2 separate regions of the Homo sapiens genome follow, and region 1 is linked to region 2. Evidence: fine-mapped expression QTL. A gene starts in region 2. The other region holds a variant in brackets. All regions are shown on one strand. Distances are between the middles of the regions.

Region 1 (5,373 bases), 27 kb after region 2:
TACTCCCACAGAGTGATATCCCTTCTTAACCCCTTCCCCTGCTTCAGAACCTCCTTTCCCAAGAACCAGCCCCACTAGGATCACCGTCAACTCCCTCCCAGTTTACCTTTTCTGGCCCACGTTATCTCTGCGGGGCAGGGGTCATGGGATGAACCCTGGATAGAAGTCAGCAGATGTCAGTAACTGCAGTAATACAGTGATATTGTCTAGTAATGTGAGCTGAGAGGAAGGATCCTGAGGTGAGGGAGAGGGAGGGAATTCCAGGGAAAGGCACTGTTGTGTGGAATAGCATGGATTCAGGGTGGGGTTGTATGATGGGAGGTTGGGAACAGGGAGCTGATATTAGAGGAGTGCTGGAGCAAGGTCACTGAGGACCTCACATGTGAATGGAGTGTCAACACCAGGCCCGGGGCAATGTTCAGATGTGCATGGTTGAAATCTGACAGCTGAATGGAACTTGGACATGCTGCAATTAGGATGGCCTTTTGGGACACTGTTGTGGTATTTCAGCTAAAGGCTAGGGTCTGAACTAGAGCAGTGGTGACACTGAGGAGGAGGGAATGAATGGGAAAGGTCTCAGAGGCAGAGGGGAGGACATCAGAGGAAAGCTAGAATGCCTTTGGTGACTGGGTAGAGCATGTCCTCATTCAGAATTGGGAGCACAAGGAGGAGAGGCTGATAGAGCAGGAGGGCAGAAGATGAGAAGTTTAGTTTGGTATGTCTAGAACTTGAGGTGCTTAAGGGAAATCATGGTGATGCTATGCATTTGGATGTCGGCTAGCAGCTAGGGGAGAGGCTAGGACTAGAGATCTGTGTATGCGAAGTAGTTAAACTAATGAGAAAGGAAGAATTTCAGTTTCAAATATTGGGCCTAGGACAGAGCTACTTGATAGTGCTGAATGGAGAGGAAGATGGCCCTCAAAGGAGATCTAGACCATTCCCCACTCCCACCCACTACCATCATGTTCTGGACCCTGTCTTCTTTGTTACTGACCCCTGAATTCTTCATGTAGCCCTGAGTTTTCTGGAGCCCTCACTGTGGAAGTCAAGCTGAGCTCTGTGTGGATGTGAGGTGGTAGTCCTCTCTCCACTTGGTCACCCTTTCCCCTGGGTTTGGTAGTGTGTTAGTGTCTCATATCTTTAGTGAACAGTTTTGATGTTTATTATCTGCCATTCTTGTCTCATGAATCTTAATAGAGGTTCAGTCATGAAAGCAAGGCCAGTGTGGGCCAGGTGAGAAAATGGCCCAGGTGGTCCCTTCCTCCTTGTCTACCTGACTTCCTTTGGAAGAAGCACTCTTTCAGGGGGCTTCAGTGTTCCAGGCTTGCTGTCTACCCAAGAGCTTGCTGGGCACCCAGGCGCCCTCCAGTAGGTCTGTGCTGCTCAGATAAACTGACATCTGGTTTTACACACCCTGAGCTTTGCTAGCGTGATTCTGCTCTTGGGAAGTAGATTCACTCTGCAGAATGGGTGGACAGTTTCTCAGCCTTCCTGGCCACAGGTCAGACCCTGGTTATGGAAAACCAAACCAGCAAATGCTGCCCTGGGAGGGTGTTACATCATGTGAGCTGCTAAAGGCAGGATCGTCTCCCCAGATGGCTGCCTCCCCTTGATTTCTTCACCCTCCACCTCAAGAAGGGCATTGGCTCCTCTGAAGGGACAAAAAGGTACCTAAAGGACCTTAGGCCTCCCATTCCTCAGACCCCCAGAGGCAGCAGACCCAAAGGTAGGGGCAGGGAAAGGAGGGGCCAAGACTTTTTCAGATACTCGGTTTTTTCTAAGGCCTTGACCTCAGCAGCTGAACTCATGGTCATGGCTGCCTTGGCCTTATTGTCCACTGTAGCCTCCTCCCAGAAGCCGAGTAAAGCAGCTAGGGTCCCTCCATGCTAAATAATGTAGTCAGGCGCTCTGGGTAGTCCGTCCTGCCTCATCTTGTTCTGGGGCCCCCAGTGGGGATAGCTCTCTGCTTTCGGGCTGCAGAAAAGAATTGAGTCACTTTCTGTAGGGGAGTAACACCCTTTGGGGACAGGGGTGCAGTTTTGAAGTAATGAAGGCAGTGATGTCTGGAGTGGGTGTGGGTGTTGCAGGTGAACTTGCCTCACCCAGGCTGTTCTGGGTCTTTGTACTCCAGAGTTCTGTCCTAGGCTTGCTTCTTCATTCACTCTGTTTCCCTTTCTCTTCTTTTTTTCTTTTCCTTTCTTTCTCTCTTTTCTTCTGTGTAGATGCTAATGACTTCCAGATCTGTGTCCTGCTGTGGCCTCTCCTCTTAGGATCCCAGCTGCCTGCCAACCAGCTGTGCTTGGGTGACTCCTGGGCATCTCAAAGCCCCGGTGTCTACCATCACCCATCATGGGGCTCTTGGCCTGCCCATTCAGCACGTGCATTGATGTACACACTCAGTGACTCCCATCCAAGCCTCCCCTGCACGTGCCTGGAGAGACCTGCCCATTGGACTCATCTTGGACTCAGTTCTGCCAATACTTTCTCCCTTCTAAGAGCATTTCCAGTTGGGCTGGAGTTACCCAGCTGCCTGAGAGGTCTCTTTCTGAATGAAGTCAATATCTAAAGTCAAAATTAATCATTCAAAATATTCCCTTACCCCATTTTTTTTGGGGGGGAGATGGGGGTCTTGTGTTGCCCAGGCTGGTCTTGAACTCCTGGCCTCAAGCGATCCTCCCACCTCAGCCTCCCAAAGCTCCCCTTAACCTCAGTTTTGATCCCATCCTCCATTTGGGCATTGCTCAGCTCCCCCACCTGTTAATAGCAAACACCAATCTCAAGCCCCTGCCCCAATCTGCTACAAGGGGTTAGTGTTCCATGCAGTGGGAGTGCAGGGAAGGCTTTACAGGAGAGGAGGGAGTTGAAATGGGCCTGGAGGCCTGGGATGGTAGACACTGGATCCTTTTCCCCCACAGCTCCTGGCTGTTTCTTCACACTCCCAGCATCACTATTACTGCTAGCATGTCTTTAGCATCATTTTGCCCTCCCTCTGACTTTCAGCAAGCCTGCACTTACCTCCAAATAAATGCATGTTTTCGGGGGGCAAAGGCAGGTTCCTTCCTTACCTTATTGTTGCTTCCCCCACCCCATGCTGCAGCTGAGTGGGTGACCTTTCTCCTCACCTCCGTGTGCCGCATCTCTCACCTAGTCTCTGTTAGGAACCCTACAGGAGCCTGCACCCCAGTAACCCCATTTTATGCTGCTTGGAGGAAGAGACAGAGAGTTTGAGAG[GTCCCAGT/G]TCTTTTCAGTGTGTGTTTGGTTCCCCCACTTCTCAAAGCTGAGAGCTTCTTTGTTTTAAGAGCCACTTGGTTAAGTCAAGAGCATTAGAAGAGTAAAAAGAAGAATACAATTAGATAATTTTACCTAAACATGCTATAGTCGACTAGGGAGTCACATAGACATTGATTTTCTAATGAGGGCGCTGTTGGTGATTCTTTTTGTGTGTAAAGATGCTTCTGATCATGCCTGCTATTACATGATACTTATTTCTAAAGTCACTTTTTTTTTTTTTTTTACATTTTCATTGTAGAAAAATATCCCATAAAAATTGTGCCCCCTAGAGGGCGAGGGCCACGGGAAGGGGGATCAGGAAAACAAGAATCAGTCTCTAAGCTGGTCCTGGAGCAGCATGACAGATGTATCTGAGCCCAAGCAGGAGAGGAGCCACAGGCCCAGGCTGGCAGAGTTGTGACTACTAGAATCTCGAGTCACTGGGGCTCAGGGAGCCCTAACTTGGTGGCAGGTGACAAATGTGGCACAAAGGAGAAAGGAGTCTTCTCCTTCCACATAGAACACACTTGGCTTCAGTGCTTTGGGGGGATTCGTGGACCACAGAGAAGCTTCCGCATATTTATAGGCACTGGGGACCAGCAGGAAGTGGTGGTGAGACACTTTGAAACCCTCCACTGCAGACTTCACCCAGGGGGCAAGGCAGGAGAGAATCCCTCTGTGGACAGCACTTGAGAGGAAAGGGCTTGTTCATGACCACGTATGAGGTCGCCAACCCAACCCTGTTCCTGAAGTTTCCCAGAAATAGATGGAGAGGTAAGGCCAGCTAGGCTGGAGCGCCAGCATCAGTAGTAGGGGCAGGAGCTCACGCTAAACCCGGTTGGTGTGTCCTGGAGAAGCACAGGTGTCATCTCCAGGGACCTTTCTCGACCAACTAATTTATGGAAATGAGACATTTGTAATTGATTTTAATTCCCTCTTAGGGACTGTGAAATTAAAATGGATTAAATTTTGTCCATCAGGAGCCTCAGGGATTTAATGTCCAATTCTAAAACCTGAACAGGCCCTTTTGTTTTGCAATTTGTGGACCAATCCCTGGCTTCATTTTATTTGGCTTTGCTTTCACTTCCCCATTTTCTGTTATTTTTTTTTTTTTTGTGCTGTTATGTACATCTCTTAAAGCTGGTCAAATCATATTTTGGGATGGAATGGCCTGATAAGTTAATAAATTATATTAAACTGCCAAAAAAGGAATGTGTTTTCGATTCTTCTGGCTTCTTCCTGGTTACACCAAAAGCATGGGGGAGAAAAGGAAGGGAAGTCATCGAGACACAGGTTGTCAGGGAGATTGGGGCCAAGGTCTCAAGCCCCTTGTGCTGGGCAGGTGTCTTCTTTTCATTGTTCCCTGTGGTCCTTCAGACATGGGTGGCTCTTCAGGCATGTCCACAACCCCAGGAGCCATGGCCTCAGTGGCCGGTGCAACTGGCCGGAGCCACAGTGGCTCCGGGTGTCGGGGCTGTCCTTTTGTCCCTTTGATCTTACGCAGGGTGAGGGAGCCAATCACGAGAGGCTCACCCCTGACGTCACCCAGTCCCCAGGGCCAGTGAGGGCCCTGCGTTCCATGGGGCCCCCTGGAGGGAGGAGTGGCATCTCAGTCTGCTGGTCCCTATGCATCTACTTTGATATGTCCCTCAGGATCCCTGTGCTAGGAAACCAGAGGTGTCTGAAATCCAAATAACACAAGGATAATTATGGATGAAAACATAGGAAAGAGTTCCCAGGGGGCTGAAACTTACCTGATTCCTCTCATTTGCTTCCTGGTTCAGGAACAGAACTGATCGCACTTCGTACTTGAGAAAGAGGGGAGAGCTGGAGCGTCTTTATATTCTTTTCTGGCCTTCCTCCACCCATTGTCCTACTGAGGACATTCAAAAGACTGTAGCTCAAGGCTGAAGTTTCCTAATACACGCTCACTCTTTTGTCCTTATTGAATGAGATATAGGCAACTTTGCCTTTTAGGCCCTTGATATGGTTTGGCTGTGTCTGCACCCAAATCTCATCTTGAATTGTAGTTCCCATAATCTCCATGTGTTGTGGAAGGGACCTGGTGGGAGGTACCTGAATCATGGGGGCAGTTACCCCTAT
Region 2 (5,373 bases):
TTCTATTTTTTAAAAATCTTACCTTATTCTGAAGCTAGACTGCCTGCTTTTTTAGCCACGTGCCGTTAGCATGTTATTTAACCTCTCTATACCATAGTTTCCTTTTCTGTAATATGGGATAGTGTTAGACTCTCCCTCAAAGGGTTTTGGATGTATTAAATGAGTTAATACATATAAAGCACTGAGAGAAGGACCTAATAATGCATTGCAAATGTTCAAGGAAAGTTAGCTATTACAGGCACATCATTTATAAGTAAATAAATACACATATGTTGGGAGTGTGTGCTCAACTCAAAAACTCAAAAAGGCTTCACTTATGGGAGCGCTCTATTGGGAAAGTTTAGAGATCAGGCCCTGGGGTCAGAGACCAGGTTTGCTTCATCTCTGCATCCTTAGAGCCTAGTGTCTGCCCAAATCAGAGAGAGTCCTGGTAGACAAATGCAGACAGAACGCTTGCAAACCAAATCCTGATGGGTGCTGAACCAGAGAGAACCTGGAACAGGTTCAGGCTCTGTTGCTTATTTCTACACGGCACTAAAGGGCAGTTGGCCTCTTGAGGACTTCGTTAGTTTTTTCTCTTCTGTAGAATGCCAGGCTTTAATTAGACAAAGGCTAAGGGAAACCATAGAATAATTCGAGGCTGTATTGAGGGCGAGGCGCGCCCTCTTGTGTCCTAATGATGTCCTCTCCTCTCTCTGCACACTCGCCTCCCTTCTTCCTCTTAGGGCAGATGATGCTGAAGTGGACACGTCCTTACCTGACCCTGCAAAGCTGCCTCTCCAGCTTCAGATCCTGACACTCTCTCAAATGTTTCCGGCTCCCTTGGCACCCCACACTGTTGCACTGTCCCTCCCCATCTCAAACCCTCCTACTTCCACATATGGTCTCTTCCTCATGCAGTGTAGGACCTTTGGAGTCACATGCCTAGGGGGTGACAAATCGCAGCCCTGGTTCTTATTGGCTCTGTGATCTTGAGTAGGTCACTTCGTTTCTCTAAGTCTCATTCCCTCTTTGTAAAGTGGAGCAAACAATACCAATCTCATAGGGCTACTGTGAGACTTCAACACCAAGGAGTATTTACGGGTTGTTATTATGTTTACTGAGTAAAATCACATGAGTTATTACTACAAATAAGTTGGAACATGTTTCACAGAGAAGGAATTTAAACTGGGTCGTTAAAGCTAAGAATTCTCCTATTTTAACACTAGCCAACATGCATTGAGCTCTTACCAGATGCTAGGTATTGTCAATTTTCCCTAAGCCGCATAACCATTGGTAATAATAATAATAGCTAATGATTATGTATATTATTGTATTTTCTATTTTTTAAAATAGAGACGAGGTCTCACTTCGCTGCCCAGGCTGGTCTCAAACTCCTGGACTAAAGCGATCCTTCCGTCTCAGCCTCCCAGAGGGCTGGGATTACAGGCATGAGCCTCCGTGCCTGGACTAGCTAATGATTATTAAACACTTTCTGTGTGTCAGACATGTGTCACGCTCTTTACATACCTTCTCCCATTTATTCCTCTCAACAACTGTCTCAGGAAGAGGCAAGTATTATCATTCCCATTTTACAGCTGGGAAAATGCAGGCATAAAGAAGCTAAGTAATTTGCCCAAGGTTTCACAACGCGGGTGGTATGACCTGCATCCTTCATTTGAAAGTAAGAACTTTCAGACACAAGCAGCTTGACTTCAGAGACTTTTACCTAAATAGTCTCATTTAACCTTCATAACACCCTGTGATGTAAGTTCTCTTACATTACTTGCATTTTATAGATGAAAATTCCAAAGACAAAATAGATGGCAGTAATTTGTTCAAGGCCACACAGCTGCGAAGTAGTTGAGTTGGGATTTGGATCCATGTCTGACTACAAAGCCCCCATTCTCAACACCACATTAGATTGTTCATGCCCCAAAGTATTCACAGTGGTACAGAGCACCCGCATTTATATGAGGATTATTTTGTAATAATGATTAACATTCTTCCAACACCTAGGAAGTGCCAAGCTCTGTACTAACTGATTTACATAATAATAGCTAACAATCGCTGTGCATTATTAGGAGCCAGGCCCTGAGCTAATCGTTTTAGGTGTATTATCTCATTGAAAGTTCACAAAACTCTGTGACATGGATGCCATTACTACCCTCATTTTATGGTTGAAGAGAACGAGGTTCAGAATTCTTCCAAAGTCACACAGCTTAGCTGTAAGCTGGAAATTAAAGCTACAACTGTCCAGTTCTCTCCTGCCTATCGGGCTGGTCACCTCTAGTCATTCTCTCTTCTTATTTCTTATTGTGTCTGCTTTGATCTTTCAGGGTCTGAGGCTCTCACTTCGACCCCTCAGTAGAACTGGGCCCCCTTCTGCTCGAGTGCCCTCCCATTGGGCGGTGCTGTTATCCGGAAGCCTATGGAAAAGGCCAGGATCGCAACAGGTCCCGCCCCCATGTGTCGCGCCCGTTCCGATTTGTTCCAGTGCCAGGGTCCGTTAGAAGATGACATATCTATTGGCTGAAGACGTCTGAAAGGCAGCAAACGGAGGGGGCCGCCCCCGGCGCTCGCGCGGTTCCTTCTGGGAATTGTGGTCTCAGACGTTCCATTCCCAGGGTGGCGCCGCTCGGACTCCGCGTCCCAGCATTCCCCGCACGAGCCCGGGAGCACTTCCGCCCTGTTGTGAAGTGGGTGTCTCGGTGGGTGAGTCCGGGTGGCGGGGCGGGGGCAGCTGAGACGCAGGCTCTGGGCTGGAGACTTAGGAGGTGGTGGTGACACAGGGGGCTGGGGAAGGTGAGAGGGGAGAAAGAAGCTTATATGTGGGGGTGGAGGGTGAGGGACGGTCAAAGGATGTAGAGGCCGGAGATGGGAAGGGTCATACAGGGGTCGGGGATGAGGAGGCGATAGAGGGCCCTGGGAATGAGGAGGGCCTTAGAAGGGTCTGAAGGTGAGGGGGTTGAGGGAGGTTTTGGAGGTGGGAGAGTCATAGAAAGGTCTGGAGACCACAGAGGAAAGGATAGAGGGTCTGGGGCCCTGGCAAGAAGTGAAGAGGGCCTGAGCTTGAAGCCCGACCTTAAAAATAGTGTTTCAATCTCTACCTTCCCATCTAGAACAAGCATATCTAATTTGTTACCTCCCTAATGATTGTTACCTCTGGAACCCAGTGGATGGGACTGGCTATTGTGTTCTGCCCCAAACCTGCACTTCTTTCCTTATGTCTTATGGAAGTCAGTGGCACGATCATCCCATTTACCTACCTACCTACCTACTTACCCACTGATTCCTCTTGCATTCTTCCACGTCCAAGGATCTTCCGATCTTTAATTTCTTTAATATCTTTTCAGTCGGCCTCTTTCTTGTAGGGTTTTCGCAGAAGCCTTTTCAGTTTCCCAGCATGAACACACACATTGCACCTAGTGTGATCTGTTTCACCTACAAATCTGATTATGCCTTCTGCTTGAAAACTTTCATTGGCACCCAGCACCTGTAAAGTCCAAACACCTTGTCCTTCATAAACTCCTTTTGCAGCCTAATCTTCATGCACCTCACACTCCAGGGCTGTCAAGGTTTTCCTCGTTTCCTGGGTAGGCCATTTGGTTTTCCATCATTATATATGCTGTTCTCTCAGCTTAGAATATTCTCTCCTTGCCCTTCACCTTCTTTGCCAAGAGAACTTCTTTAACTTAAAAAAATTTCAACTCTTACTTTGCTCAATTCCCTTAAGCAAATTAAGTCACCCCCAACCCTCAGCTCCCATAACTTCTCCTATTACCACATTTGATCATAATTATCTGTGAAGTGTGTGTCTCTTCCATTAGACTGTGAACATCTCCAGGACAGGAACAGTGTCTCAATCACCTCTGTTTCCCCATTGCCCAGTCTAGAGCAGTAAACACTTGATGTAAAGCAGTAAATACTTGATGTATGTATGTGTGAATGAAGACCATGCAGGGTAAGCTTTGCTATACCAGCCTTGAAGACTTCTATTGCCAGTGGATTTCCAGGGCAGGAGCTTTAGTCTTCCTCTGCCTGGCAAGGCTATCTGCTGGAAGCTGAAGCTGATTCATTGCCAATGGGAGTTTAAGCCAGGGGTGACAAATACATGGAATGTGTGCTGCCAGTGCCCCTTCCTGTGTCCCTGGCAGTCATGGCTAATTGGTTGGTTCTCAGCACATATTCACACTGTACTCAGAGCCCTCAGCACACTACTCTAGGCAGCCACTTCCAGTTGATTGAAGTTTCTGCTTTAAATGAAACCTATTTGCTCTCCCTGGCTTAAGCCCTTATGTGTGAGGTCAGGTCAGACTGCTTTAAGCCATAGCTTGGACTGTCAGCCAAATGGGCCTGACAGCCTTTAAGAGTTCCCAGTTTTTTCTCTTTGGAGGTCACAGACCAGTCTTGGCCTTTCCTGTGGAACTGGAGAGCATCTTCTCTTCCCTTTTCACTGAGTGGGCTCCTCATGACCACGTTCATACTTACTGCCCTAGGAGTCAAGATGCCCCTCAGCTTCCCTGTGTTTGTAAAGACATCTTGATTTTGATGGCAGTCAGCACTTATCCCTCATGACCTGGGAGGCTCTGTACTCTTTCTAGGTCTTTCTGGATATTGGAAGAGAGCTTTGAGATCACTTAGCTGAATCTAAGTGGCAAAGCGACAGCCCATGCTGAATGAAGTCCACCATCATGCTTTATTTAATCTCATAGTGTGTGAAAAAATTTTGAGTTGGTTACCAACATTTAAAAATCCAGAGTGCTAGTTTCTTTTGGAAAAATCAGCAGGCTTAGGAATATTCTGGGCATATGTTCCCCTGGCACTCTATAGTTGGCTGTAGTGCCCACCCAGTTCATTTCAGTCATTGACTCATTTACATTGCTAGGTCCTTATACCCATTTAAACTTGTAGCCACTGACTCTAGTCTCCCTTCTCCCTTGCTCTACCCCATCATACTAATTGGGGAACCTAGGGCAACTGCTGAGTAAGATCAGGCTGTAAGCTGCAGCCTAGCTAGGCAGCCACAGGGGCTACATAACTTGTCCAAAGTAACACAGCTGATTAGTGGCAGGAGTGGAACTAGAACCCCAGTCTGCTCACTCCTGCCTTAATGTTCTTTCCATTCTCCCGTACTGTCATCTTAAGAGTTTGGATGACTAGCACACATAGAGGAGGCTATAAGACATGGTTAAGAAAAATGATTGGAGAAAAGGGATCTCGGCTTAGACCCTAACTCTACCACTTGCTAGTTGTGTAACCTTAAGTGAATCTTCATAAACACTCAGTTTCCCTTTAGGTAATTGAGGATATAGTGCAGTCATACCTTATCAGATAATAATATTCTAAGGGTGAAAATCACTTTAGCCAAAAATCACAGTTAGTTTGAAAATC

Which allele goes with the higher level. Alleles are on the strand shown, and positions count from the first base shown. SD is a standard deviation of normalised expression in the study named.
As copies of GTCCCAGT replace G in region 1, the expression in skeletal muscle of the gene that starts at base 2,648 in region 2 goes up (small effect, 0.19 SD a copy in GTEx).

What was found. PIP is the estimated chance that this variant, and not a neighbour inherited with it, causes the effect. A credible set is the group of variants that fine-mapping cannot tell apart.
Region 1: its variant is the best candidate, but not a certain one, in a credible set for the expression of ZSCAN20 in skeletal muscle (GTEx, PIP 0.57).

What each region holds. Positions count from the first base shown.
Region 1 is chr1:33,497,166-33,502,538 of GRCh38, forward strand. ZSCAN20 (zinc finger and SCAN domain containing 20) reads left to right here. Exons shown (of 8, transcript NM_001377376.1): 8 at 1-4,478. Among named protein-coding and RNA genes, the nearest start is that of ZSCAN20, 27 kb to the left of the region's middle. The variant GTCCCAGT/G (reference allele first, on the strand shown) is at 3,232.
Region 2 is chr1:33,469,998-33,475,370 of GRCh38, forward strand. ZSCAN20 (zinc finger and SCAN domain containing 20) reads left to right here and starts at 2,648. Exons shown (of 8, transcript NM_001377376.1): 1 at 2,648-2,694. RefSeq lists a silencer at 611-905.